2 separate regions of the Homo sapiens genome follow, and region 1 is linked to region 2. The links come from fine-mapping of genetic effects on gene expression. A gene starts in region 2. The other region holds a variant in brackets. All regions are shown on one strand. Distances are between the middles of the regions. Region 1 overlaps SYNJ2 (synaptojanin 2). Region 2 holds the start of SERAC1 (serine active site containing 1).

Evidence for each region. PIP is the estimated chance that this variant, and not a neighbour inherited with it, causes the effect. A credible set is the group of variants that fine-mapping cannot tell apart.
Region 1: its variant is the best candidate, but not a certain one, in a credible set for the expression of SERAC1 in whole blood (GTEx, PIP 0.84).

What each region holds. Positions count from the first base shown.
Region 1 is chr6:158,070,663-158,084,725 of GRCh38, forward strand. SYNJ2 (synaptojanin 2) reads left to right here. Exons shown (of 27, transcript NM_003898.4): 15 at 940-1,132; 16 at 3,918-4,076; 17 at 5,964-6,120; 18 at 7,502-7,619; 19 at 10,447-10,665; 20 at 10,770-10,848; 21 at 12,767-12,935; 22 at 13,339-13,512. Among named protein-coding and RNA genes, the nearest start is that of SYNJ2-IT1, 77 kb to the left of the region's middle. RefSeq lists enhancers at 503-1,066, 1,067-1,628. The variant C/T (reference allele first, on the strand shown) is at 10,149.
Region 2 is chr6:158,160,172-158,175,670 of GRCh38, forward strand. It overlaps SERAC1 (serine active site containing 1), which reads right to left and starts at 8,091. Exons shown (of 17, transcript NM_032861.4): 1 at 7,969-8,091. GTF2H5 (general transcription factor IIH subunit 5) reads left to right here and starts at 8,179. Exons shown (of 3, transcript NM_207118.3): 1 at 8,179-8,224; 2 at 10,299-10,367. The coding sequence starts at 10,333. RefSeq lists silencers at 7,889-7,958, 7,999-8,178.

The DNA.
Region 1 (14,063 bases), 90 kb before region 2:
GTCATCCCCCCAACCTTGTCTGCCAGCGAGCAGATGCACCAGCAGGCCTCAGTCTGTGGCATGGCTGTGGAAATGTTAACAAATGTGCTTGCAGCCCATGTTTCTATGGACTCGTATGCGTCATAAGTGGGCATTTGAATGCAAGCAGGCTCTGGCATTGCATAAAAGTCCTTTTGAGACCATCTACCCAGCCCAGCATAAACAGCTGCCCGTTTCCTAGCTCTTAAAGTGCATTGATTGCTGGGCACGGTGTCTCACGCCTGTAATCCCAGCACTTTGGGAGGCCAAGGCAGGCAGATCACTTGAGGTGAGGAGTTTGAGACCAGCCTGGCCAACATGGTGAAACCCTGCCTCTACTAAAAATACAAAAATTAGCCGGGCGTGATGGTGGGTACCTGTAATCCCAGCTACTCAGGAGGCTGAGGCAGGAGAATTGCTTGAACCTGGGAGGCCACAGTTGCAGTGAGCTGAGATCACGCTGCTGCACTCCAGCCAGGGTGACAGAGCGAGACTCTGTCTCAAAATAACAATAATAATTTAAAAATGTGTTGATTGCCCAGATGACACCTCCCATGCATGGCGTGATGGCTGCACAGGAGTGGGGTGGGCTGGTGGGTGGTGATGTTTGCGCCGCTCCTGGTGGCAGTGAGAACCTGGGCGGATGCAGGCATTGCCCTGTCTTCGGCTTCATGGGGTGCTCAAGTGAGCACTTCCCAGTTGGGGTGTGGGGGAGATGTCCAGGCAGCGGTGGGCAGCAGGAGGGAGGCGGCCTCCTGACCAGGAGTCGATGACGGCCACGGTGGCCACTGTGTTGAGCTGATGATTTTGGAGCACTCAGAGCAGCAGGTCCCGAGCTGCTGCTGGGCCCTTCTCTGTGGCAAAGCAGGGTCACACTTCTCCTTCAGGAGCCGACGGCATGCGCGTATCCTTCTGTTCCAGGGACGTAGCCATCGACACAGTGAAGACGGGCATGGGGGGCAAGGCGGGGAACAAGGGCGCCGTCGGCATCCGCTTCCAGTTCCACAGCACCAGCTTCTGCTTCATATGTAGTCACCTGACGGCCGGGCAGTCCCAGGTGAAGGAGCGGAATGAAGACTACAAGGAGATCACCCAGAAACTCTGCTTCCCAATGGTGAGCGGCGCCGTGGGGACAGCCAGCACCTCCCTGCTCAGCTCAGTCCCAAATGTGACTGTTGATAGGAGCCAGGCACTGGGGACACAACCACAGGGAGGGCCCCTTCCTGGAGGGCTCAGCGCTGGGGGAGGGGGAGAGGGCTATGTCCCTCCATGGAATTGACCTGGGGCAGGGTTAGCCACGTGCCTGGAGGGGGCCAGCTTTGCAGCATTTCCCGTTGCTGTACAATTCCTGAGTGTCTGCATGGCCACTGGATTTGTATGTGTGCATTTTCTGATTTTCTAATTCAAGTGATGGTTTAGGGAAGAAAACCATGTCCGTGGTCTGTCCTGTCCAAGTGGTGAAGAGCATTTGAATCCACACAGCCTAAGACTCCACCTTCCTGAGATTCACAGTCTTCACATGTACTTTCTGTGGTGGCTCAGATAAGCACACCCTTTTGACCAATGGACCCTTTTTGACTGGGAACACGGTTCTTGACCAAGGAGCCCAGATCCTGCCTGTCCTCGAAGCTGCAATAGCGAACCGCACACTGCCCTCTCGTGGCGGTCCGGAGGGTTTCATTCTGAAACTGGAGGATTTTCTTTTCAAATCTAGACGTTAATGTTCTCCTTCCTGTGCAAAGATGCTACCCGGGCACAGCTTCAGCGTGTGGTGCACACGAGGCCACCTCTTTCCCGAAGTGAGGATAGACTTCAGCTGTTCTTGCTGCAAAATCTTCCACTGTCTGAGAGGTGGTGGGTTGGGTCACAGAGCTCTTCCCTGTGAGAACAGATCCTTAAAACTGACGTCCCATTTTACTGGGCTGCACGAGCACTCAAGGCAAAATTTCCTTAGTTTTCATTAAGAAGTGCCATAATTCCTGTTGGTGTTGTTTATTTCTTATGTTAAAAAAGAAACAAACGAGTTGGGAAATTTTCAATTGTGTGTAATGCAGTTTAAAAAAAAAAAAAAAGTCTAACCCTTCTCACTTAAAAATAGCTACTTTGGGGCCAGGCACAGTGGCTCACACCTGTAATCCCAGCACTTTGGGAGGCCGAGGCGGGCAGATCACCTGAGGTCAGGAGTTCGAGACCAGCCTGGCCAACGTGGTGAAACCCCACCTCTACTGAAAATACAAAAAAAATTAGCCAGGCGTGGTGGCGTGCACCTGTAATCCCAGCTACTCAGGAGGCTGAGACAGGAGAATCGCAACCCAGGAGGCAGAGGTTGCAGTGAGCTGAGATCGCACCACTACACTCCAGCCTCGGCAACAGAGCGAGACTCTGTCTAAAAAAAAAAAAAAAAAAGTGCTACTTTGACATAGTAAACTTGGGATACATAATAAGTAATTAAAGGATTTATAATGTAGTTCTTTTCTACCATAAAAATATTGAGGGACCTATTAACATTCTACACTTCTTTTTTGTTTTTGTTTTTTGAGACAGTCTCACTCTGCCACCCAGGCTGGAGTGCAGTGACATGATCTTGGCTCACTGCAAACTCCACCTCCCAGGTTCAAGCAATTCTCCTGGCTCAGCCTCCTGAGTAATTGGGATTACAGGCGTGCACCACCAGGCCCAACTAGTTTTTGTATTTTTAGTAGAGATGGGGTTTCGCCATGTTGGCCCAGCTGGTCTCGAACTCCTGACATCAAGTGATCCGCCTGCCTCAGCCTCCCAAAGTGCTGGGATTACAGGTGTGAGCCATGGTGCCTGGCCAACATTCTACACTGGTATTGTCTGATACCGTAGTCACTGGCCATAAGTAGCTATTTAAATTCAAATTAATTAAAATTAAATAACATTTAAAATTCCTTGCTTTCCCTGGCCACAGTGAGAATGATCAGTATCCATGTGGCCAGTGGCTCCTGCATCAGATGGCACAGAGAACATTTCGGTGCTGCAGAAAGTTCTGTCTGACAGTGTTATCTAGACGCTCATTTTATTTGGTTGGGACCTGTTTAATCTTCTGTCCAGATTATTGTCATGGGGGGAGTGGAAATGCCTCATATTATAGGAGAAGAGAAGCTGATTTTGGAGCTAGGCAGATGGGAGCTGAAATCCCATCTGTATCATGCACTAGCTGTGTAACCTTCAGCAAGTGCCTTTGTTTCTGAACTTTGTTTTTTTTTTTTTAATCTAAGAGAGAGCTGGTGGTATCTGCTTTGTGCACCTGGAACAGAGCCCAGCCCTTGCGGACAGTTGATCCACAGCAGCTGCTGTCATTGTCTTCCCCATTCCTGGGGAAGAGACAGGGAAGGCAAGGACCCCAGGAGCTCTCCGGGGCTGAGCTGGGGCCGTGGGCTCCTAGGACTGGGCAGGATGGGAAGGAGGAGCTAGAGAGAGATGGAGAAGGGTCACCTGAAAAAGCTCAGGAAGTTACATGAAGGTGCACATCCTGAGCATTTCTGCTGCTCTTTTGAAACCTCATTCTCCTAACGCTGAATGCTGGGTGCTGCTTCCTAGGAGTAGACACTCCAAAGTAAGGGTGCATCTGATCTTCAGGACGGGGATCCATGGAGGAAATGCTGGCCATGTTGCTCTCCTCCGTTTAGGGTAGGAGCTTTCTTCAAACCACTCAGAAACACTATTATTTAAAATTAAAAAGTAAGCCATGTAAAAATTCCTCCATAGTTTTATGGGATGAGTGAAAAACAAGATGCTCTAGTAGAAAACTTTCTTTTTTCTAAGTAGCATTTTGAGAAAAATACTCCTGCTTGCCCCAGTGAGCTTGTTTTTCTCCTCTCTCCCACCTTCCTTGCAAGATGGGCTGAATGATTATGATTTTCTTTTCAACTTAGGGGAGAAATGTTTTTTCTCATGATTATGTATTTTGGTGTGGCGATTTCAACTACCGCATTGATCTTACTTATGAAGAAGTCTTCTATTTTGTTAAACGCCAAGACTGGAAGAAACTTCTGGAATTTGATCAACTACAGCTACAGAAATCAAGTGGAAAAGTAAGTTGTGCTTTAAAAACATTTTTTAGCAGCTGCTCCAAGATGGAATGACATCTGTGAGATGTAGAGGCTGGTGCAGCAAATTCAGTTCCGTGAGTGGATTTCACTGTTTCCAACATTGTAGAAAATAGGTGGGCTTGTGAGGTTACAGTACAGGAGTGGCTGTTCATACACACTTCCTGTCCTTTTTTTTTTTTTTTTTTTTTTCCTGAGGCAGAGTCTTGTTCAGTCACCCAGGTTGGAGTGCAGTGGCACTATCTTGGCTCACTGCAACCTCCACCTTCCTGGGTTCAAGCAATTCTTGTGCCTCAGCCTCCCGAGTAGCTGCGATTACAGGCGTGTGCCGCCACACCTGGCTAATTTTTGTATTTTTAGTAGAGACGGGTTTTCACCATGTTGGCCAGGCTGGTCTCGAACTCCTGGCCTCAGGTGATCTGTGCGCCTCAGCCTCCCAAAGTGCTGGGATTACAGGCATGAGCCACCATGCCCGGTCAACCTTCTCCTCCTTCTAATACTGTTATTTTAGTGCCTGTTTGCTTCCTAGCAGGATGAGCTGAGATGAGGGGAGTACATTTAAATTCCATTTAGCTGTGGAGAAAGAAGCTGGTTAAATGTGTGAGGGCCAGGTGCGGTGGCTCTTGCCTGTAATCCCAACACTTTGGGAGGCCGAGGCGTGCGGATCACCTGAGGTCAGGAGTTCAAGACCAGCCTGGCCAACTTGGTGAAACCCCATCTCTACTAAAAATCCAAAAATTACCTGGGTATGGTGGCAGGCGCCTGTAATCCCAGCTACTCAGGAGACTGAGGCAGGAGAATCGCTTGAACCTGGGAGGCGGAAGTTGCAGTGAGCCGAGATCGCACCACTGCACTCCAGCTTGGGCAACGAGCAAAACTCCGTCTCAAAAAAAAAAAAAGTGTGAGGACAGGGCAGATAAGGTCTCTCCTGAAGCAAGATTTGGACGTTCTTCGAGGTTTACTGTGTCTTCCCACTTGAGCCCCTTCCAGTGTGTGGAGTGCTAAAGGGTTGCCACATGGACGAGTGACCATACCAACCTCCTAAAGCAGGTTTTCCTGTCTTCCTACTACCAACATTCTCACATCCTCTCAGTGATGCCCAAGAGAATGAGGGTGTGTTTGTCCCTTGGTCTTCCCATGGAAGCAAGGCCAATCCAAAGTTAAACAAAGAAAAGAAGGATGTGCATGGGGGCTCACGACTGTAAGGCGGGAGGATTGCCTAAGCCCAGGAGTTTGAGACCAGCCTGGGAAACATAGGGAGACTTTGTCTCTACAAAAACTAAAATTAGCCAGGCATGATGGTGCGTGCCTGTAGTCCCAGCTACTTGGGAGGCTGAGGCAGGAGGATCACATGAGCCCCAGAGGTTGAAGCTGTAGGGAGCCGTGATTGCACCACTGTATTCCAGCCTGAGCAAAAGAGCGAGACCCCAGGGGGAGAGAGAGAGGAGAGCTGACTTTCACTCTGCGCTTCTATGTACTTAGCTCATTTAGTCAACAAACATAGATGAAGGCCTCGGGGTTGTGGGCCAGACATGGCACCAGGCATGGGACTGTAAAGATGAGCACCCCTGACCCGTGCCTCGGACCCTGCACTGTCTCCTGGGGGGCAACAAGAAGACAGTGGATAGATCAGACACTGGAGTGGGTGGGGAGATAGATACGAGGGCGGTGTGTCCCTCAGTGGGATGAGCTGAGGATCACTTTTTTGCTAATTAAAAGACACATATGTCCAGTTTCAGATAGATTTTCAAATGTAATGGAGCTTCTGTTACTTTTTAAGAATAGGGACTTGCCTTTTCAGTTTTCGTTTTTGTATATAACATTCAGGATCGAAAACTACGGTGGCCTGATGACTTCTTTTTCTCCCAATAGATTTTTAAGGACTTTCACGAAGGAGCCATTAACTTTGGACCCACCTACAAGTATGACGTTGGCTCAGCCGCCTACGATACAAGCGACAAATGCCGCACCCCCGCCTGGACAGACAGGGTGCTGTGGTGGAGGAAGAAACATCCCTTTGATAAAACAGGTGAGGGGGCCGTGCCCGTTCGAGAGTCGGCAGAGGGTGAATAAGAAATGCGACGGAGGGAGAGTCACGTTTACCCAACCCCAGGCGCTGCTACATAAATCAGTTTCTTCATAACCCCAGATGACACAAAAGTCATCCCAGACCTTAACCCCTAAGCTTTGGAAGTTGTGCTTTCAGGGAGCCTCTGCTTCTGGCCTCTTTTTTTCCCTTTTCTTTTCTTTTTTTTTTTTGAGACAGAGTTTCACTCTTGTTGCCTAGGCTGGAGTGCAATGGCGTGATCTTGGCTCACCACAACCTCCACCTCCTGGGTTCAAGCCATTCTCCTGCCTCAGCCTCCTGAGTGCTGGGATTACAGGCATGCACCACCATGCCCAGCTAATTTTGTATTTTTAGTAGAGACGGGGTTTCTCCATGTTGGTCAGGCTGGTCTTGAACTCCCAACCTCAGGTGATCTGCCCACCTCGGCCTCCCAAAGTGCTGGGATTACAGGCATAAGCCACTGCGCCTGGCCTCCTCTGGTCTCTTTCTAGAGACAGTGACCTGCAAATAGGTCTGCTCCTGGCTGCCCCTGCATCACAGCTCCCCCCCACACCCCCACCTCTTTTTTCTGGGTGGGGAAAGCGGGGAGCATGAGGTTGCCTCCCTCCCTGCCCCCCATGCTCCCCCTCATGTTCTTTATCCAGCCTATTTTGTTCAGCTACACTTTTACCTGCTTAAAGCCCTAATTCCAAATTGGACACGAGCAAGACACAGTAAAAATAAGTTAGTTTTTAAAAATCATTAGTTGTCAAGTATGTTTTGAACAACTGTTGATGCCCAGCTAGGAAGTGAAGTTTATTTAAAGTTAGAATATCTGTAACTAGTACATAAAAAAAAAAAAAAAAAAAAAAAAAAAAACCTAATTACACATTTTGGGAGAGCATAGCCAGGAAATTGCATCTGTGAAAAGAAAATACAAATTTTCCTCTAGATGAGTTTGTGAACGCCTGTGTGGCCCCAGCGCTCTGAGAGGTGGGGCCTAGAATGAGTCCGAGTGTTCTCAGCTCCTGCAGCTCTTACCATACCAATTGCTGCCAACCTTCTGGGATTCCTGGGTCCTGGAAACCCGGCAGCAACACTGTGTCTCAAGCCTACAGTGGGCATGCTGGCGAGGACTGCAGGCATGGTCATGACTGTTTTGAATAATTATATGCGAGGAATGTTTTTAACCAAAGGCCCCAAAGCATCCGAAGCCTGGCTTCAAGGTGGAGGAGTAAGGAGGATGAGTCTGGGACGTGGGGTGGTTCGTGGCGCAGACCTCTATTGTGGAAGTGTCATGATCGCATTCTTGGATATTGACTCGATTCTATATGGGTCTCTCGAATGGAACCCCTGCGAGTAGCTGGAGAACTCAACCTTCTAGACAGTGATCTAGATGTTGACACCAAAGTCAGACACACCTGGTCTCCTGGTGCCCTGCAGTATTATGGTCGTGCGGAGCTACAAGCGTCTGATCACAGGTGAGGTCCTGACTTCCATGGCGTTTTCTCCTGTGCTGGGCAAGGCAGCGTCTCCCTCTCCGCAGGAAAATGCATGCTGTCCCCATAAGGATGTGTGTGCGCATGGGGGTGCATTTTGTGTGCATACAATACACCAAAGAACAAAGAATGATGGAACAAATATCTGTGGACCCACCACCAAGAACTAATTAATCTTAGCATTTTGTCATTGCTCCATATCATAAATGACATCATTGATGAAAATTTCAAAGATGCAACCTACGTATTTTGCGGCTTTTATATTTTCTTAAATGATGTCGTTGTGCAACTTGCTTTTTTGTTACTATTTTTGAGATACAGTCGTGTTGATGTTATAGCTCTGGTGCATTCATTTGTAACTGCTGTCTAGTATCCCACTAAATATATCCATGGAACTTACAACTTATCCATTCACCTCTTGATGAATATTTTCTCCAGGATTTTATGATTACAAACACCATAGGGTTTTTAAATCTGGGATGCACAACCTTTTTTTTTTTTTTTTTTTTGAGAGAGAGTCTTGCTCTATTGCCCAGGCTGGATGGAGTACAGTGGTGTGATCTCAGCTCACTGCAACCTCCGCTTCCCAGATTCAAGCAATTCTCCTGCCTCAGCCTCCCAAGTAGCTGGGATTACAGGTGCACACCACCATGCCTGGCTAATTTTTGTGTTTTTAGTAGAGACGGGGTTTCACCATGTTGGCCAGGCTGGTCCCAAACTCCTGACCTCAGGTGATCCACCCACCTTGGCCTCTCAAAGTGTTGGGATTACAGGCGTGAGCCACCGCACCTGGCCCTAGGATGCAGGGCTTTTTAAATGCTCTGTGCATCATGCATTGAGGATAGAGTGGAGGCAGCAGAGGGAGCACCGTGGGCACCAGCACCTGTGCCCTGGGATTGCTGCAGAGGAAGACTCACCCTGCAGAATGTCTTTAAAGACAGAGGAGAGGATGGCATTTGAGGGTGTGAAGAAGGAAGAGTTTGATCTTCCCAAGGCTGCTGCCTAAACTCTCATGTCAGTTTCAACTTTTACAAGGAAAGAAATTAAGAAAAAGAAGGTAAGAACAGTTGGTCAACGAAAAAACCTTTTTTTTTTTTTTTTGAGACAGAGTCCTCCAGGCTGGAGTGCAGTGGCACAATCTTGGCTCATTGCAACCTCCACCCCCAGGGTATAAGTGATTTTCATGTCTCAGCCTCCCAAGTAGCTGGGATTACAGGCGTGCATCACCATGCCCGGCTGATTTTTGTATTTTTAGTAGAAACGGTTTTGCCATGTTAGCCAGGCTGGTCTCCAACTCCTGGCCTCCAGTGATGTGCCCGCCTCAGCCTCCCAAAGTACTGGGATTACAGCCACCATGCCCAGACTCTTTAGATAATTCTAAATTCTTTAGATACCTGTTGTTGCAAATACATACCTAGAAGTGAATCTTGAGGAATCTTCAGATATGTGACATCAAGGTTTGCTAGCTCAATGTATTTTGAAACCTTAATTTAACCAATATTTCTTGAGGGGCCCTTACATGCCAGGCCCTGTTGCTGGCCTGGAGAAAAGCAGTGAACAAAACAGATGAGACCATGTTATCATGGAATTTTCTGGACAGGACAAACAGACAATAAACAAACATGTGTGCTATGAAAGAAAAAAAGTAGTGGCAGGAGTCAGGCCAGAGTCGAGCTATTTTCAATCAGGCTGTGTAATTTTCGTAATATAGGATTTTCTGGAAATTTATAGAGTAATAACCATCCCTGTGTCAGAATTACTATAAGGATTGCATTATTTCCTGCTGGACTGTTTTCCTGTTTACATCATTGATTTTTACATTATTCCTAATGATTGCGTAGGGTATTATATGAAGGTATCATAACTGTTTCCCCATTAAGAAACAGAGCATTTTGGCCTGGCGCAGTGGCTCACGCCTTTATCCCAGCACTTTGGGAGGCTGAGGCAGGCGGATCACCTAAAGTCAGGAGTTCAAGACCAGCCTAGCCAACACAGCAAAACCCCATCTCTACCAAAAATACAAAAATTAGCTGGTCATGGTGGCATGCGCCTGTAATCCCAGCTACTTGGGAAGCTGAGGCAGGAGAATCACTTGAGCCCGGGAGGCGGAGGTTGCAGTGGGCTGAGATCGCGCCACTGCACTCCAGCCTGGACAACAGAGGGAGACTCTGACTCAAAATAAAAAAAAAAAAAAAAACGAGCATTTCCCTTTTTTTTTTTCCCTCCCATCAACAATGCTGTAAATGATCAACCTCATGCATTAAATCTTTGTCTGAATCCCTGGTCATTTCCTTAGAATAAAGTCCGAGAAGTGAGATTACTAGGTGAAAAGAGATGAACAATTTTGGAACTCTATGTAAAGTGCCAAGTAACCCTCTGAAAAGCTTGCACCCCTGGCAGAGTGCAGATGTCTGCTTCCCCACCTCCTTGGTGGTACTGAGGATTACCATGTCAAAAATCTTTGCTGATGGCTGGTTATTTTCCAAGTACTGGGATACATCTTTAAGGTGC[C/T]ACACTTTATTTTCCCCCTCAAATCATCTTTAGATAAAAATGCCAAGGTGATACTAAGGTTAAGGAAAGATGAAGACTAAAACGCCAGAGCAGGGCAGCTAGCCTGCAAATCCACCTGCTGGTGGCCACATTCGCAGGTTGTTGGTGTTGACTGTTTACAAAGAGCCCTGGGGGACAGCAGCTGGGGACTGGGGGCTGGAGATGTGGACATCTGTCCCAGGCTAACTGGGGACTGGAGGCCGGGGGTGTGGACATCTGTCCCAGGCTAACTGTCATCCCTCTTTTGTTCCTAACGCAGACCTGTGCTGGCGATCGTGGAGGTGGAAGTTCAGGAAGTCGATGTGGGTGCTCGGGAGAGGGTTTTCCAGGAAGTGTCCTCCTTCCAGGGCCCCCTGGATGCCACTGTTGTAGTAAACCTTCAATCACCGACCTTAGAAGAGAAAAACGAGTTTCCAGAGGACCTGCGTACTGAGCTCATGCAGACCTTGGGGAGTTATGGGACAATTGTTCTTGTCAGGTAACTGCTCCCCTGGCTGATGTGGGTTCCAGGGGATGTCGATGAGGATCCGTGAGAGCTGCCAGGTCGTTCTTGGCATTGACTTGGAGTATCATTTATTCCAGGATCAACCAAGGGCAGATGCTGGTAACTTTTGCAGACAGTCACTCGGCTCTCAGTGTCCTGGACGTGGACGGTATGAAGGTACGCTGTACTTGGCCACACTGTGGAGTGGGGTCTGATCAATCCCTCTTTTTATGTGGGCATGTCTTCTTCCTCCTCTTGCCCTGACCTGTGCCTTTTTTTTTTTTTTTTTTTTTTTTTTTTTTCTCTGAGACAAAGTCTTGCTCTGTCATTCAGGCTGGAGTACAGTGATGCAATCACAGCTCGCTGCAGCCTTGAACTGCCAGGCTTAAGCAATCCTCCCATCTCAGCCTCTCAAGTAGCTGGGACCGCAGGCACGTGCCACCACACCCAGCTAATTTTTTTTAAATTTTGTAGAGAGAGGATCTCACTCTGTAGCCCCGGCTGGAGTGCATTGGGACAGTTATGGCTCACTATAACCTCAGCCTCCTGGGCTCCAGTCATCCTCCCGCCTCGATCTCCCAATGTGTTGAGATTACAGGCATGAGCTTTCATGCCTGGCCACCAATCTGTCTTTATGTATAGACGCCATATGCGGGAGGGAGTTTGGATTCTTCACTCTGGTTCTAAGGTGTCTCATGTCCGGCTCTAGCTACTTGCAAAATAGGGCGGAAGGGTGGGCGCAGTGGCTTATGCTTGTAATCCCAGCACTTTGTCAGGCCAAGGTGGGTAGATCACCCAAGGTCAGGAGATCGAGACCAGCCTGGCCAACATGGCGAAATCCTGTCTCTAGTAAAAATACAAAAATTAGCCAGGCGCTGGGTGTGGTGGCTTACGCCTGTAATCTCAGCACTTTGGGAGGCTGAGGCGGGCAAATCATGAGGTCAGGATTTCGAGACCAGCCTGGCCAACATAGTGAAACCCCGTCTCCACTAAAAATACAAAAATTAGCCAGGCATAGTGGCAGGTGCCTGTAATCCCAGCTACTTGGGAGGCTGAGGCAGGAGAATCACTTGAACCCAGGAGGCAGAGGTTGCAGTGAGCCGAGATCGCACCATTGCACTCCAGCCCAGGCAACAGTGTGAGACTCTGTCTCCAAAAAAAAAAAAAAAAAAAAAAAAAGTAGCCAGACATGGTGGCGCGTGCCTCTAGTCCCAGCTACTCAGGAGGCTGAGGCAGGAGAATCGCTTGAACCTGGGAGGCAGAGGTTACAGTGAGCTGAGATCGTGCCACTGCACTCCAGCCTGGGTGACAGCGAGACCCTGTCTCAAAAAACCAAACAAACAGAATGGGGAAGAAGAATGTCAGTCACTGTGTCTCACGTTGGAAGGCAGCTCTACCAGCAGCTGCAGAAGCTTAGCCATTTTAGAGTGTAGTTCTCGCCGAGTTACTTGATCTGTCTATGCTCGCACTGCCATGTGGGAGACTATTCCAGTCTTTCTCTTTAGAGTATGTATTTTGGAATATGCAGCTCATAGATAGTTTCCGTTTTTATAGTATCTTGGCTTTAAATCTGTACCAAATGGGAAGCTGGAGATGAGAGTTCAACTTTTTTTTTTTGAGATGGAGTCTTGCTCTGTCACCCAGGCTAGAGTGCAGTGGTGCAATCTCGGCTCACCGCAGCTTCCGCCTCCCGGGTTCAAGCGATTCTCCTGCCTCAGCCTCCCGAGTAGCTGGGACTACAGGCACTCACCACCACGCCCAGCTAATTTTTGTATTTTTAGTACAGATCGGGTTTCACCGTGTTGGTCAGGCTGGTCTCAAACTCCTGACCTCAAGGGATCTACCTGCTTCGGCCTCTCAGAGTGCTGGGATTACAGGTGTGAGCCACCGCACCCAGCCCAGTTCAACTTTTTTTTCAACCAGATGTATGAGAGCTATGCTGAGCCTGCGTGAGGTCTGGACCCTTGGTTTTTCAGGGCCAAATGTGAAGATTGGCCTCGTTGAGGGTGTGTGGGTTTTGGTGAGAAGCATTGTGTGATCAACAGGAGGGGTCATGATTTTTATTTATTCCTGGGTGGCCGCTCTGCCCTCCCAGGTGAAAGGCAGAGCAGTGAAGATTAGACCGAAGACCAAGGACTGGCTGAAAGGTTTGCGAGAGGAGATCATTCGGAAACGAGACAGCATGGCCCCCGTGTCTCCCACTGCCAACTCCTGTTTGCTGGAGGAAAACTTTGACTTCACAAGTTTGGACTATGAGTCAGAAGGTTAGTGACCCTGCAGGGAGGGACAGGCAAGCCGTTCTTCTAGCAACAGGCCTGAGCTTTTAAGGACACCTTCTAAAGCCTCCCTTGCAGAAGTGACGGAGGACACCCGCAGGGCAAGCCCTCTGTCCCATGTGATGAGCATGTTTGTATGTGTGGACGATGCATGCCATGCTACCTGGGACCCGAGGCATCTAAACTTAGGCTACAAACAGTGGCTATGAGGATATCAGGGCTGTGGGTGTACCAATGGAACTGGGGTACCGTCCCTGCTGGCGCCTGGGCCCTGAGCTGCAGGGCAGGGTGCACGTGTCCTGACAGGAGCTGAACCAGTCCCACTGATGGAAGACTGAGCCTTTCCCCCTCATTGTTTTCACCCGAATTGTGATTCATTTCCTTCTCCCAGGGGATATTCTTGAAGACGATGAAGACTACTTGGTGGATGAATTCAATCAGCCTGGAGTCTCGGACAGTGAACTCGGGGGAGACGACCTCTCTGATGTCCCCGGCCCCACAGCACTGGCTCCTCCCAGCAAGTCACCTGCTCTCACCAAAAAGAAGCAGCATCCAACGTACAAAGGTAGCCTGACCCTTCTTTTCTCAGGAGCCTCAGCGATGGAGTCAGCTCAGGACAGACTTTCCTTTTTCTCTTGGCGATTGGGCACTGTGTGATATCAAGTATGCAGGTCCCAGGAGAGACCTCAACCAGGCAGGCCAAGCGAGGGGTAGGGACTGAGCCCTGTGGAGGTAGCCAGCTCCAACACCCTGATTTCCTCTAGTTAGTTTATTTTTTTACAATAACTTGTACCCCCATAACACACCAGATTCAAGATAATTCTTGTTTCCTCTGGATATTCAAATGGCCACGGTTCTGAACTGGTTTTATATTTGTGATTATTTCCCGCCCCCAACAAAACTCTTCTGATTCAGCCAGGCGCAGTGGCTCACACCTGTAATCCCAGCACTTTGGGAGGCCGAGACAGGTGGATCGCTTGAGGTCAGGAGTTCAAGACCAGCCTGGCCAACATGGTGAAACCCTGTCTCTACTAAAAATATTTTTTAAAAATTAGCAGGGCATGGTGGTGCACATGCCTGTAATCCCAGCTACTCAGGCAGCTGAAGCAGGAGAAT
Region 2 (15,499 bases):
TCATACTGATTTGCGCACTTGTCGATTTACCCCTTTTGTTGTCCTTTTTTTTTTTATTCATTAAGCAAATACTTATCTGAGTCCCTAGGAACGAAGAACTGTTCTAGATGCTAGCAATTTAACAATGAAAAAGAAAAATCTGCCCTTGCTTTCATGGATCTGACTCTCTAGTGCAAAACACCCCAATCTGTGGCAAACAAATACTACCCTTTTTGGGGGGTCATAATGTGAAAAGATATGCCATCAGGTGCACACAAATGAATGATTATTAGAAACTTAGTACTTTTTTCCTTTTGTCATCACATACTATCTTCCTTTATCCCTATTAACATTTATTGCTTTAAGTTCCTTGCCAGTTTTCTAAGTATTTAACTATCTTACCTTTTCCCATCATGGTTATAATCTTTTGGTATCATTTATAATTTCAAAACCTCTCTTTGAATAGATGAATTTAATCCATTTACATTTATCGCATGTTGGATAGATCAGGATTTTTTTATTACTCTTTAATTGGCTTAAAGTTATACAATTTATTTCTATTCCTTTAGTAAACAGCCACATTTTAAATGTGCTATATAGTATGAATTTAAACAATATAATTATCCTCCCAAATGAGAATATTAGAATGCTTTAAATACGATCCTCTCCTATCTTGTCTAGTATTTTAATTCCATTTTATTTTTAAACATCCCAAAAGAAGTCATTTTTAAAAGCAGTCAACCTAAATATTTACCAACATTTTGTCAGTTTCCTTCCTTACTTTTGTTTCTTGCATCCACAACTTCCTCCTAGGTTCAAATCATTCTTGATGAAGGTATATCCTTTGATAGTTCCTTCATGAAGGCATATATGTAGTTAGCACTCTCACTCTCAGCATGTCTAAAAATGCTCTATTTTAGATATACTAAAAAATAGTTGTGTTTGGGCCAGGCGTGGTGACTCATGCCTGCAATCCCAGCACTTGGAGGCCAAGGTGGGCAGACTGCTTGAGCCCAGGAGCTCTAGGCCAGCCCAGGAGTTCAAGACCAGTGAGACTTCATCTCTCCAAAAAAATTTAAAAAATTAGCTGGGCCTGTTGGCATGTGCCTGTATTCCCAGCTACTCGGGAGGCTGAGGCAGAGGAATTGCTTGAGCCTGGGAGACAGAGGTTTCAGTGAGCCATGATCACGCACTACACTTTAGCCTGGGAGACAGAGTAAGACTCTGTCTCAGAAAAAAAAAAAAAAATAGTAATAGCTGGGTTTGGAATTCTGGGTTTAGAATTTAGAATAACAGTAGGTTTCCTTTGGTACATTAATGGTATTTTCACTGATATTTCTTGTTGCTCAGGAGAAATCTAAGTCTAACTGTTGTTTCTTTGTAGGCAAAATAATAGCAAAGAAGTTTAAGAATGTGCTCTGTAGGACCACACTGCCTGGTTTCAAATCCAATTCCACAAACAACTTGTATTAGTAATTTTTTTTTTTTTTTTAAGAATGCTTTGACATCTTAGGACCTTAAGGACCCAGGGAGTGACTGCCCCTCTCTGGGATAGCTAACTGCTAGAGGTAGCAAACAACCTGCCTGTGAGCATGCTTCTCATATGCAAACCAACCAATCCCAGGTGCATACCCCCAACCACCACACACAGCCAATGCTTCCCTTACTCTAAATCTCCTCAGAGCCAGGTACTAGGCAGCTAGAGACCACCTCTCTGGTCTGCCAAATTATTCGAACTATCCAATCCTAAGTTTGTTCAGCTCGTCTACCCTGTCTCGCTCATTCCTTCCCACAAAAAAAACGTTCATTCCTTCCCACAAAAAAACACAATAAAAGAAAGCTCTGGCCCATGCTTTCACATTGCTCCTTATGCCTCCTGAATGACCCTGGTACTTCCCCATGTGGCCTTGCATGGTGTGGCACGCCCACTCTTCCTTGGGAACTGTACATAATAAGCTCTTCTTTCAAGGCAGTTGTCTCTGTGTCTGTCTTCTTACCATTCCTGATTAAAACAAAATCCAGGTACATTTGAAAACACTAGACATATGATAATGGGCTATTTAACCTCTGTGTCTCACTTTCCTCATCTATAAAATGGTGATAATAAGGGAACTACTGTAAAGGGTTGTTACAAATATCACATGAGTTAATATATGTAAAACACACAGAATAGTGCCTATTCCAAATTAAGTGTTCAATAAATGCTACTTATCATTACTATCAATATTATATTCCATCTGGCAGTTTTAAGATCTTTTTGATGTTCTTACAATTCTCTACTTTATGTCTGGGTATGGGTTTGTTTTTATATACCCCACTCAAGATTTGGTATGCTCCTTTGATCTTAGAACTCACATTTTTCTTCAATTCTGCAATATTCTTAACAATTACCACTTTGACCCCCATTCAACTTTTACCTTCTGATACTCCTATTAGATGTATGCTAGATTTTTAAAGTCTAACCTTCAAATCTCAACTTCTTCCATTTTTTTCTATCTGTCTGACATGCACTATAATTTCCCCAAATCTATCTTCCAATTCATCACCTTCTGTTTAGTTGTATTTAGACTATCATTCGATCCATCCACTGAGTATTTCAAAAACTTTTATTTCTAAAACTTCCAGTTGGCTCACTTTCATACTTGCCTGCTTTTTTTACACATAGTTTTTGTCTTAAATGCAGATTTTTTTTAATGGCCACAAATTATTCCTTTTCCTATAACCATGATCTTTGGTAGTCCCCTCCCACGGTGACTTTAGATTGATCTTACGAGTAACTTTGGCCATAGGACAATAGAAGCATGATGCAAGCTGAGACTTGGGAAGTACGTGCACATCGAGGCTCCTGTCTTTTTGCTCTTGAGAAACCTGTGACCAGCACCATGTAAAGATGCCTAGGTTAGTCTGCTGGATCACAAGAGAAATGTCCAATATCCCCATTAATGAAGCCAACAAGTACCAACTGACAGCCAGCAACAGCCGCCAGGCATGTGAAGCCACATCAAACTAGCCAGCCCCTAGGTGACCCTACAAATCCATATTCAGTCCTTAGCCTGCAAGCAATAATAAATGTTTGTTTTAGCCCGTAGCCTTTGGGATGGTTTATAATGCCTCAAAAAGCTGACATGTAACTTCTAAACTTTCCTTTACACGAGATATATGAGGTTGCTGCCAGCATAACTTGTTTTACAGTAAATTTTATTTTTTTATAAGTAGAGGGAATAGATGAATACACTATAAAATAACAATAAAAAGTATACCATAGGGCCAAGTGTGGTGGCTCATGCCTATAATCCCAGTGATTTGGGAGGCCAAGGTGGGATGATTGCTTGAGACCACAAATCAACTGACTATATCTGCGGCACATGCCTGTAATACCAGCTACTCAGAAGCCTGAGGCAGGAGGACTGCTGGAGCTCAGGAGCCCAACACCAGCCTAGGCAATACAGTGAGACCCACATCTCAAAACAAACAAACAAAAAACCCTAATGGAATACATATGTATGGACCTATTCCACTCCATCGATCTATTTATCTATCCTTATATAAACACTGCACTGTTTAGATTATGTAGGTTTTTTGTTGTTTTTTGTTTTCTTTTTGACAGAGTCTCACTCTGTCGCCCAGGCAGGATGGAGTGCAGTGGCCTGATCTCAGCTCACTGCAACCTCCGCCTCCCAGGTTCAAGCAATTCTCCTGCCTCAGCCTCCCAAGTAGCTGGGATTACAGATGCCCACCACCATACCTGGCTAATTTTTGTATTTTGGGTAGAGACAGGGTTTCACCATCTTGGCCAGGCTGGTCTTGAACTCTTGACCTCGTGATCCACCCGCCTCGGCTTCCCAAAGTGCTGGGATTACAGGTGTGAGCCACCGCACCAGGCAGATTACTGTAGTTTTTAAAGTAAGTCTTGAAGCTAGTAGTATAAATTTTCCAGCTGTGTCCTTCCTTTTCAAGACGGACTATTCTAGGTCCTTGGTACTTCCACATAATTTTAGAGTCTGCTTGTCAATTTCTATTTAAAAGCACCTTTAAGATTATGGGGCCAGGCACGGTGGCTCACGCCTGTAATCCCAGCACTTTGGGAGGCCGAGGCAGGAGGATCACGAGGTCAGGAGATCGAGACCAGCCTGGATAACCCGGTGAAACCCCATCTCTACTAAAAATTCAAAAAATTAGCTGGGTGTGGTGGCGGGCACCTGTAGTCCCAGCTACTCAGGAGGCTGAGGCAGGAGAATGGCGTGAAACTAGGAGGTGCAGCTTGCAGTGAGCAAAGATTGCGCCACGGCAGTCCAGCCTGGGCGACAGAGCGAGACTCCATCTCAAAAAAATATATATATATATTATGACGGTGATTACATAAAATCTGAAACACTGATTTTAAGTAGAGAACGGAGAAATTTTGAGACTAAGAAAGACACAGAAAATAAAAGGGAAGAGATTATAATTTAAAAATAAAACAAATATTTGAAAATTCCATTAAGTTTAACAATATGGAGGTCACTGGGATCTTCATATCAGTAGCTTCATTGCCCTGGTGGAGGAAGCCAGAGTGAAACATCATTTCATGCTTTCATTCTGATTAATAAAACGTGAGTTGTAGCTAGGTACACAGACAACAAAAAAGACTACATCACCTTTCTTTCTTTCTAGTTAACTATGGGCACTTACAAAGAATTGGCTAATGAAATATGAGTGGATGTGTCATGTGCAATTTCTGAAAAGTGTCCTTAAAAAGAAGGGTATGTGCCTTTCTTCCTCCTTCCCTCCTCCCTCTTGCTAGAATGAGCAACTGACAGTTTGAATTAAAGCAGTCATCTTAACACCAAGCATCTTATTAAGGACGGTAGAGCAGCCAGATAGAAGAATCCGAGTCCCTGATGATTACAGAGCTGCTTCCATAAAAGCATGGCTGCCTACCTATGCAATTACATACATATTTAAGCCAGTATTATCTTGTTTTCTGTGTAACACAGCTGATTCCAACACACCACAGTTTTTTGTTTTTTGGTTTTTTTTTTGAGACAGAGTCTCTCACTCTGTCACCCAGGCTGGAGTGCAGTGGCGCGATCTCGGCTCACTGCAAACTCCGTCTCCCAGGTTCACACCATTCTCCTGCCTCAGCCTCCCAAGTAGCTGGGACTACAGGCGGCTGCCACCACGCCCAGCTATTTTTTTGTATTTTTAGTACAGACGGGGTTTCACCGTGTTATCCAGGATGGTCTCAATCTCCTGACCTCGTGATCCACCCGCCTCGGCCTACCAAAGTGCTGGGATTACAAGCGTGAGCCACCGTGCCCGGCCCAGTTCTTAATATCTATATGCCAGTGATCTCAGAGTACCTCTAGCTACGATCTTTCCTGACCTATCTATCCAACAGCTATTGGAACATTTCCACTTGGATGTCCAACAGGCCTTTCATACTCAACTGTCCAAAAGAGAATTCTTTACTTTTTCTCCCCAAACTCTTCCTCCACAAATCTTCTCCATCACTATCCATCAAATGGTCAATGCTTTTTGATTGTAAATGGTAAATGATCTACCTCTTAACTGAAGCAAAAAAACAGATGTTGCCCTTGATTCCTTGTTTTCCCCTTACTCTACATCTAAACCACGCAGAGTTGCTCTTCTCTACCATCAAAACATACCCCCAAATCCATCCATTTTTCTCTGTATTCACTGCTACACTCTTGTCTAGTTCAAGCCAACATCATCTCTCATTTGGAGTAATAAAATGACACCTCAAAGGTGCTTTTTGTAACTTAAGAAATCCTTCTCAGAGACATTTAAAAAAAAAGTTCTGGAGATAGATAGTAGTGCTGGTTGCACAATGTGAATGTCACTGAACTCAACAACTCAACATGGTTAACATGATAAATCTTATGTGTAACAAGATTTAACAAAGCAAACAAAAAAGAAATCTTTCCTAGAGACAATGGTCTCTTATATTCCTTTCCAAATACCTTGCAGCTGTGCCATTCACATTTAGGTCTTTATCTGGAAACTGTTGTCAATAGTTTGAAAGTAAGAATCTAATCCTGTCTGTATACCATAACAATGCCAGATATCTCAGCAACCATATATTTCATCATCCTTTATTGAATAGTCTATGCTTTCCCCCTGCTTTGCAATACCACTTAGTGGTATACTAAACTCCCGTATGTAAATAGGTATGTTTCTAGTGTCTCTATTCTGTTCCATGAATCTAATTCTCTATCCCTGAATCAATATCATACCATCTTAATAATTACAACTTTATATTAAGCTTTGGTATCTGATAGGGAGAGACCTTATTTTTCTTCTTCTTCAAAATTGACTTCACTATTCTTGGTCCCTTGCCTTTCCATATAAATTTTAAGTTCAGCATGGCAAATTCCATAAAACAATATGGTGATTTTAATTGGCATTACACTGAATTCGTAGAACTGAGGAAAACTGACATCTTTTTGTTGAGTCTTTCCATCTATTAATACGGTATATCTCACCATTTACTTGGGTCATCTTTTGTGTTCCAACAGAGCCTTACAATTTTCTGTCTAAAGGACTACACAGCTTTAGGTTCATCTATTTCTAGGTACCTTTAGTTTTGAATGCCATTATGAATAGTGTCTTTTTATTATTAAAACTCCTAGTTAATTGTTACTGGTATACAGAAGTTTTTAAATGCAGAAATTAAGGCCATTTCTGACATCCCCCTGGCCAAAATAACCCCTCTAGTCACTCTTTATCACATCACCAAATGGTACTTATTCCTTAACTGATTTCAGAGTCTCTCTGCCCCCACCAAAATTAGTTACCTGTTCACCATTGTATCCCAAGCGTCTAGAATAATAGCTGACACACATCAAGTGCACAAAAATGGAACTGATGAGATCAAGGAAGAGAATGTATGCAAGATGAAAAAAAGCAAATAAAAGATACTTGGGAAGAAGAAGACTTGGAGGCAATTTTTTTATTTTAAAGAGAGTGCAACAATATGGAAATCACCAGTTGGAAAAGATTTGAGGGATAGAAAGAGGGAACTAAATGGAAGAGCTGGGTTCCTTAGCGATCACATGAACACACACGATGTTAAAAAAAAAAAAAAAAAAAAAAAGGCAGCATGAGGTCGGGCGCGGTGGCTCACACCTGTAATCGCAGCACTCTGGGAGGCCGAGGCGGGGGATCACCTGATGTCAGGAATTCCAGACCAGCCTGGCCAACATGGACAAACCCCGTGTCTACTAAAAATACGAAAATCAGCCGGGCGTGGTAGCGCACGCCTGTAATCCCAGTTACTAGGGAGAATGAGGCAGGATAATTGCTTGAACCCAGGAGACGGAGGTTGCAGTGAGCCCAGATCGCGCCACTGCACTCCAGCCTGGCAGACAGACCGAGACTCCATCTCAAAAAAAAAAAAAAAAAAGGCAGCATGAGCTTAATGCGGGAAGTACAATTTAACCTAAGGAACAGAAAACAAGAATCTCATATCTCAACTAGTAAAAATAATGACAGTGTTCCTTTAGACTTACAGAACAGACTTGGGGAAAGGGAGTAACTTTAGAACCTTCTGGGGTCTTTCACTTTAAAATGACCGTTGCCGAGTTTAGAGCTCTCTCAGCATTCAATCTATTCCATCTCTGGGGTTAGAGAGGGAGCAGGAAGCGGTGGTCTGCAAGGCTCAGAAGTGACTGGTGAGGCCCTTTCCTCCTCCTCCTCATCTCTCCGTGACTACCGAGCCCGGGAAGACGGACCGGCAGGTGCACTCCCCAAGGCCTCGACAGCAGCCAGAGAAAGGCAGCGACAGGGAAAGACGAGTCAGGCTCGCGACCACCAGAGAGAGAGGCCCTCACGCCCAGCCGAGCGTCAGCTGGTCGGTCCGGTCCGCGCGCCAGACGGCGGTGCTCGGCCGTGCCCGGTCCCTGCCCTCCCCATTCTCCGCTCCCCACCGCGCCCAGCTGCGCCGACGCCCCCGTCCGCCCCCACACCACCCCTGCCTTCACGTCCTACCTGCCGGCAGGCGGACTCAGCCCGTGCCCAACTGCTCGTCGGACCCCGTTGTCTGGGGAGCCCTACTCTTTCCGCGGCTCCCGGCCGGGACCCTCCACCCGGCGGCTGGCGGCTCGTGACCCCGCCCCCTCGGCCCGCTCTGGGCCCGCCTCCCGCCGGCTGGCTCCACCCACAATAGCGTCCCTAGCGCGATGGCGTATCGGCGCAGGCGCACTCTGCCGGCAACGCCGAGGCGCTTCTGCATCTGTGGGCCGAGGTGTGTGGCGAGCGTCCGAGCGGCTGGGGAAAGTGGGGTGTGGGAACACTGAGGGGTCCCAAAGAAAGGGGAGAGGAAGAGAAAAGCCCCAGAAGCCTGTCCACCGGGTGCTGGGGGCACAGGGCGGTGTCCCCCACTCTCTCCGGGCCCTTCCTGGCGGGGCCGCACGGCAGTCCCCCCCTCGTTTAATCGTGGGTTTCCTGTGGGGCTAGGGCTCGCCCTGCGCCCAGGTGTAAGTGGAAGTTAATTAAATGGGCGTACGCTGAGTGGTTTGTTTCCAGCCTAGGTCCGCACGGGACGTGATTTATTTAGTGAAGGGGCACAAGATCTGGAGATCTGGCTTGTACTTTTTTCCTTTGGCCAGGAACTACGGCTTAATCTCTTCCTTTGGTCTCCTCATATGTAAAATGAGGTGGCTGAGGCCGGGCGCGGTGGCTCACGCCTGCAATCCCAGCACATTGGGAGGCCGAGGCGGGCAAATCACTTGAGGCCAGGAGTTCGAGACCAGCCTGGCCAACATGGTGAAACCCCGTCTCCACTAAAAATACAATAAATTGGCCTGGCGCGGTGGCTCACACCTGTTGTCCCAGCACTTTGGGAGGCCGAGGTAGGTGGATCATTTGAGATCAGGAGTTCGAGACCAGCCTGGCCAACATGGTGAAACCCTGCCTCTACTAAAAATACAAAATTTGGCCTGGCGTGGTGGCGGGCGCCTGTAGTCCCCGCTGCTTGGGAGGCTGAGGCAGGAGAATCGCTTGAGCCCGGGAGGCAGAGGTTGCAGTGAGCCGACATCACGACACTGCGCTCCAGCCTGGGCGACAGAGTGAGACTCTGTCTCGAAGTGTATATATACATATATATATATTATATATGTATTTTATATATAATATATATTTATTTTATATATAATATATAATATGTATATTATGTATATTATATATAATACGTATATTATATATAATACATATATATAATATGTATATTATATATTATATATAATATTATATTGTATATTATATATTATATATAATATATTGTATATTATATATATTATATATTATATATATTATATTGTATATTATATATAATATATTGTATATTATATAATATATTGTATATTATATATAATATACAGTATATTATATATAATATACTGTATATTATATATAATATATTGTATATTATATATAATATATTGTATATTACATATATTGTATATTACATATAATATATTGTATATTACATATATTGTATATTACATATAATATATTGTATATTATATAATATATAATATATATTATATAATATATTGTATATTATATATTATATAATATATTGTATATTATATATTATATAATATATTGTATATTATATATAATATATTGTATATTATATATTATATATTGTATATTATATATTATATATAAAAGTGTGTATATATATACACACACACACACACGATACAACACAGTACATTAGCTGGGCTTAGTAGTGCATGCCTGTAGTCCCAGCTACTCGGGAGGCTGAGGTGGGAGGATCGCTTGAACCCAGGAGGCAAGAGGTTGCAGGGAGCAGAGATCGCGCCACTGCACTACAGCCTGGGCGGCAGAGCCAGACCCTGTCTCAGTAAAATAAAATATAAACTAAAAGGAGGTGGTTGGGCTCACTGTATAATTTTTGAAGCACCTTTCAGAACTATCTTCTTTGATTCCTGTCTCCCAGGATCTTACCCTTTGTCATTCTCCTGAATGGGAAAAGAAATCCTTTGAATAATGGACGGTTTATACCTGGGTTGGGCACACTGGTGTAGAGTTAGGCCTCTTGCTTCTATTAGGGCTAATTGACCTTGGGTAGAATTGGCTGGCGAGTAAGATGTGGCATTAATATTCCAAGTAGACTCATTTTAATTTTGTTAAAAAATCAGAATGTCTTTTTTCTTAATGTTAACTGTCTTTCATAGACTTAACTGTTAAATATTGACATTTAATTATTTTGCCTCGTTTCAGAGGCAGATCCCCAAAGTATATGAAAGTTAATGATTTTTAATTTAATGTTACCTTACTCTTTTTATTAGCATTCTTCAGGTCATCTGAACCTTCTGAGAAAACATGGTCAACGTCTTGAAAGGAGTGCTTATAGAATGGTTAGTAGTTTTGATACTGCATGAGTTTTAAGTTTAAATATTGAATCTTGACTTGTATGTATGTCTTTTCTAAAACCCTGTTGTTTTTAAGATATGGATGAAATCAAGTCTTTCGCTTTTAACAAGTGGCACAGATTTTGTTGCAAAGCTCCTGGTGCCAGATTTCAGTCCCTCTGTTGAATTGATGGAACTGGCATGATCAGAGGCAGCATATTTGTTAGATGAGTCGTCTTTAGAGAAACAGTGCTTGCATTCTCCTCAAACATGATGAATTTTAGGGCCTGAAAGAGTTCAGGAACTTGCTTAAGTCTTTACCATTACAAACTGTGGACTTTAAAAAAGAGAAAAACAACAGAGCCAAATGGAGGTTTCTTAAATTCCTTTAGGTACATTCCAGAGGAGAAACTAAAAACCATAAATGGGCAGAGTTGAGTTCCTCAAAGCAATCCAGTGTCCAGGAACCCCGGGAACCCTGCTCTGTGGACACTCCCATTGTCTGAAAATACTACTGTCTACTTTCGGTGCCTCTAATATGAGCCAGTGCATGGATAATGATACTGTTTACTGTGATGGCAAGGCTAAGGAGGAGCAAGACCAAACCCTAGGACACTGCCAACATTTAGAACAGCACTAGCCAATAGAAATCTAATGCAAGCCACAGATATAGTCTTACATTTTTTCTAGCCATCTTAAAAGTAACGTAAAATGAAACAGGTGAAGTTAATATCTTTTGTTTAACCCTGTCTATGCAAAACACTATGCTTTGAACACATACTAAGTCTTCAAAAAAATCTTCATCTTCAAAGTCGAATGGATATTTTAATTTTACAGCACATCTCACAGACTAACCGTGTTTCAAGGACTCTGTAGTGACCTGACTAGTGGGCTACCTTATGCATAGTGCAGATTTGGAGTTTTGATACAGGAGACACCAACAAAGGCAACTAAGAAGAAAATAGCCAGTGAGGCTGGAGGGAGGAAAGCCAAAGGAGGAAGTGTTTTGTAGGGATGAGCGGCTGTGTTGGGCACTGATTGAGAACTGGCATGAGATGAAGACTGGAGTTTTGATGAGAGCCATTTGAATGGAGTGGTGGGGAGATGCCAGATTGAAGTACTGTGGAAAAGGAAAGGGAGGTGAGGAGGTGGAGATGGAGACTTCGGAGAAGTTTTACTGTGATCATGAGCAATCTCATAGAGAACTGGATTGGTAGCTGACGAAGGACATGGTGAGGGGCTCAGGTTCTTGCTATTTTTATTTTAATGTGAAAGACTAGAATGTACGTTGATGAGAGTAAACCACTGCGGGGGAGAGGTATTCACTTGGAAAAGCAAAGGGGGTGGGATCTGGACCCCAGAAGTTCTAAACACACTGTTCTGTTGTCTTTTGAAGGCACTAGGTTTGATGTACTTATTTTCCTATTAATTTGACATAACATAAACATTTTCCTCGTTGGCCTTTAGTGTTATTTTTAAATACAGAGGATACACATACACAGAGTGTCAGCTATCACTTTTTTTCCCTCGTTTCTTCCAATTCTAAGTTTAATCTTCACCCCTGGGTTTGTTAAATATTCACTTCTCTCTTCTGAGGGTTTTGTGTTTTTCTTGGTGTTTTAGATTCATTCATCTAGAATTTATTGGGAGGAGTGGCATAGGTTTGTTAAATATTCACTTCTCTCTTGTGGGGATTTTGTGTTTTTCTTGGTGTGTTAGATTCATTCATCTAGAATTTATTCAGAGAAGAGACATATTATTAGATAAGGATCTAAATTAGCTTCTTTTTTTTTTTTTTGACACGGAGTCTTGCTCTGTTGCCAGGTTGGAGTGCAGTGGCGCGATCTTGGCTCCTGGATTCAAGCGATACTGCTGCCTCAGCTGCCCGAGTAGCTGGGATTACAGGCACACACCACCACACCCGGCTAATTTTATTTTTGTATTTTTAGTAGAAATGGGGTTTCACCATGTTGGCCAGGCTGGTCTCGATCTCTTGACCTCATGATCCACCTGCCCCGGCCTCCCAAAGTGCTGGGATTACAGGCATGAGCCACTGCACCCAGCCTAGCTTCTTTTTTGTTTTGGGTGTTTTTGTCTGTTCATTTTGCCAAATATCTAGTTCTCCACCATTATTTCCTTTCTTAATGATGCTTGATGCCTCCTTAATCACATAATTTTACTCCCCTTGCTATTCTCTTTCATCCCTTCCCACATTCATCTTTCTTGTTGCCTATTCTAGAATAACCTTGAAATAACTTAGTCTGTTTCCAAAATAATCCTTTTGGCATATTGGTTGGAATTGCATTAAACCTACGTTTTAATTTGAAAAAAAAGATGACTGGATTGCATCTTAAAGAACAAAACTCTGGGGAGACTCTGAAGTCTCAGTGCCCGGTTTGCTGTCCCGTATCTAACCTCTGAATTCTACCTGGTCTCTCTAATGACTGTCCATCACCTTGCACTTCAGGGTAATCCCCAGACTAGCAGTAATAGCATCATCTGGAGCTTGTTAGAAATGCAAAATCTCAGACCTCACCCTAAATCTACTAAATCAGAATTGTGCATACAAAGAATCTTGTTAAGATGCATTTAAATTTTGAGAAGCAATAATACTGTTAATCAGCTTCAGTTTAATAATGTTTCCCTGTGGAGAAGTGTTTTGCACCAGGACTATTAAATTTTATTTTGCAGGTTAGGTACCATCCTTGCAAAACTAATTTTTCCCTTTGAAGTGAATTCTAAAGTGTAGTCTGCACAATTTTTCAAAAGGGTAACTCTGTCTTCCCAAAAACACAAGTCTTCCAAAAAGATTTTGGGCCTAAGAAATAACATAGATTCCCAAAGGAAAGGGTATGGCCAGTGCTAGTGGATTCCCTTTCACAGTTAGATGCAGATGTTAGGATGGTAACTGGAAAAGTCCTTCAGTTTCCCTCATGTCCATATTTGATGCCAAGGAGAAGCCTGTTAATAATATGATTATCAGTATAAGTCTGTTTATTACTTCATAATATCCATGGATTGTATGAAGCATTTAGGTGTATTGGAGTATGGAATTTGATAGGTCTGGAGTTTACAGGCAGACCACTCAAGGATCTTCTACAGCTGTTGCAGGTGAATACCAAAATTGAGGCTCAGCCCTGGAAGCCAAGTTGGTTTTTGGCTTCATGCAGGAAAGAATTCAAGAATGAGCCACAGAGTAAAGTGAAAGCAAGTTTATTAAAAATGAGGGAATAAAAGGGTGGCTACCCCATAGGCAGAGTGGAGTGGGGAGGGTGGGAAGCAGGCGGGCCTGCTAACTGGCTATTTTATGGCCATTTCTTGAGTATATGTTAAACAAGGGGTGGATTATTCGTGAGTTTTCTGGAAAAGAGGCAGGGATTCTGTGGAACCAGGAGTCCCCAGTCCAGACCATACGGGGTAACTTCTAGATATTGCCATGGCATTTGTAAACTGTCGTGGTGCTGGTGGGGGTGGTTTTTAGCGTGCGCATGCATTATGATTTGTGTATGATAGTGGTGAAGGTTGCTTTTGTTGCCATCTTGGTTCTGGCTGGTTTCTTTACTGTATCCTCGCTTATCGGTGGGGTCTTCTGACCTGTTGTTTACTGTCTCTCTTGTCTTGGAAACTAGTCCTGCTGAATTCCTATCTCACAGCTGCTTCCACTGTCCCAGGAATCTCTCCAAATTCCAGTCCCATCATTGTATTAATAGAAACTGATGTGTAATAGCTTATATAGTGCTGATCCACATATATCTTAGATTGGCTTCACTTAACTGCCATATTTAAACTCCATTTCTATCAGTTAAGTTTAACTGATTTTGAGTCTGCAGAGATTTGCTAAAGAAGTAAACCAAATTATGATGATGGCCATTTATTCTCACCTTCAGAGAATTGAAAAATCAGGGCACTTGGATATAATCTTAACTCCCAAGGGCTTATCAAATACTAAAATTGAAGGCTATAAAAGAAGTTTTATGTTTATAAATTTGCACTTTTATGTCAAAACTGAAAGGTTGGTGAAAATTTCCTCTTTGTTGGGATCCACCATCAATTGCCAGGCTCACACTAAGTATTCTCCCAAATCTAGCCACCAAGCAATTACCAAAGCAAGCAACACATGACCACAGTATGTCTGTGTCCAGTTCCAGATGCTGGAGCAGACCTCTGGTATAACAGTTGCCACAATTGGTTTGGCAAGTGCTTCAGCAAAGATTTGTTGCCAAGGTGCAAATTCCAACCAGTTTACATCACAATAGCAAAGAATCTGGAGAAATATGTATTATTAAACTACACTTATCCTTATGAGTTTGGCTTCTAAAGCTATATCGTTTATGAGAAGCGAAGTAAGAAGTATGGCAAAACCAGTCTAACCATTGTTCTGTTTTTTTCTCAGCATGTATAAATCTTTTCTCAGCCTTTGCCTCTTAGTAGGGCCATGTTCGCTGAAGTTTTCCAGGCACCCAAAACTGTGCCTGAGATGTGTGTGTGTGTGTGTGTGTGTGTGTGTGTGTGTATACACACACACACACATACACATATATAGATATGGCTTAGTAAATATTTGTGTACTGAATAAATTTTGTTAACAGAATTGAGTCCAGGTTTGTGATCTCAGCCAAAATCCCAAATTTATTAATGTTCCTTTAGAGCCTCTCTATTCCTACAGTGAGATTCACAGTGAATAAGATGGGATTCTTGATAAATTAAAGTTTTAGTTTGAAACAGATGTGTATACTAGGCCTCCTTTTAGCATGTTGTATATCAAAATAGCTTTTAAATGAGGAGGCTGTTGTCTTCCAGTCATAGCTTTTAAAAAGCAAGCACCCCACCAAGCTGCTGATGGAAGTGTAATCCCAAGAAACAACTGTAAGCAACTTGTGATGGGTGTTTTGTGCTTTTATATCCTTTAACACAATAACTCCGTTTCTATAAGTTTATCTTTAGGAAATCGCTGGGTGCAGTGGCTCACGCCTGTAATCCCAACACTTCAGGAGGCTGAGGCGGGTGGATGGCTTGAGGTCAGGAGTTTGAGACCAGCCTGGCCAACATGGTAAAACCCTGTCTCTACTAAAAATACAAAAATTAGCTGGGCATGGTGGTGGACGCCTGTAATCCCAGCTACTGGGGAGGCTGAGGCA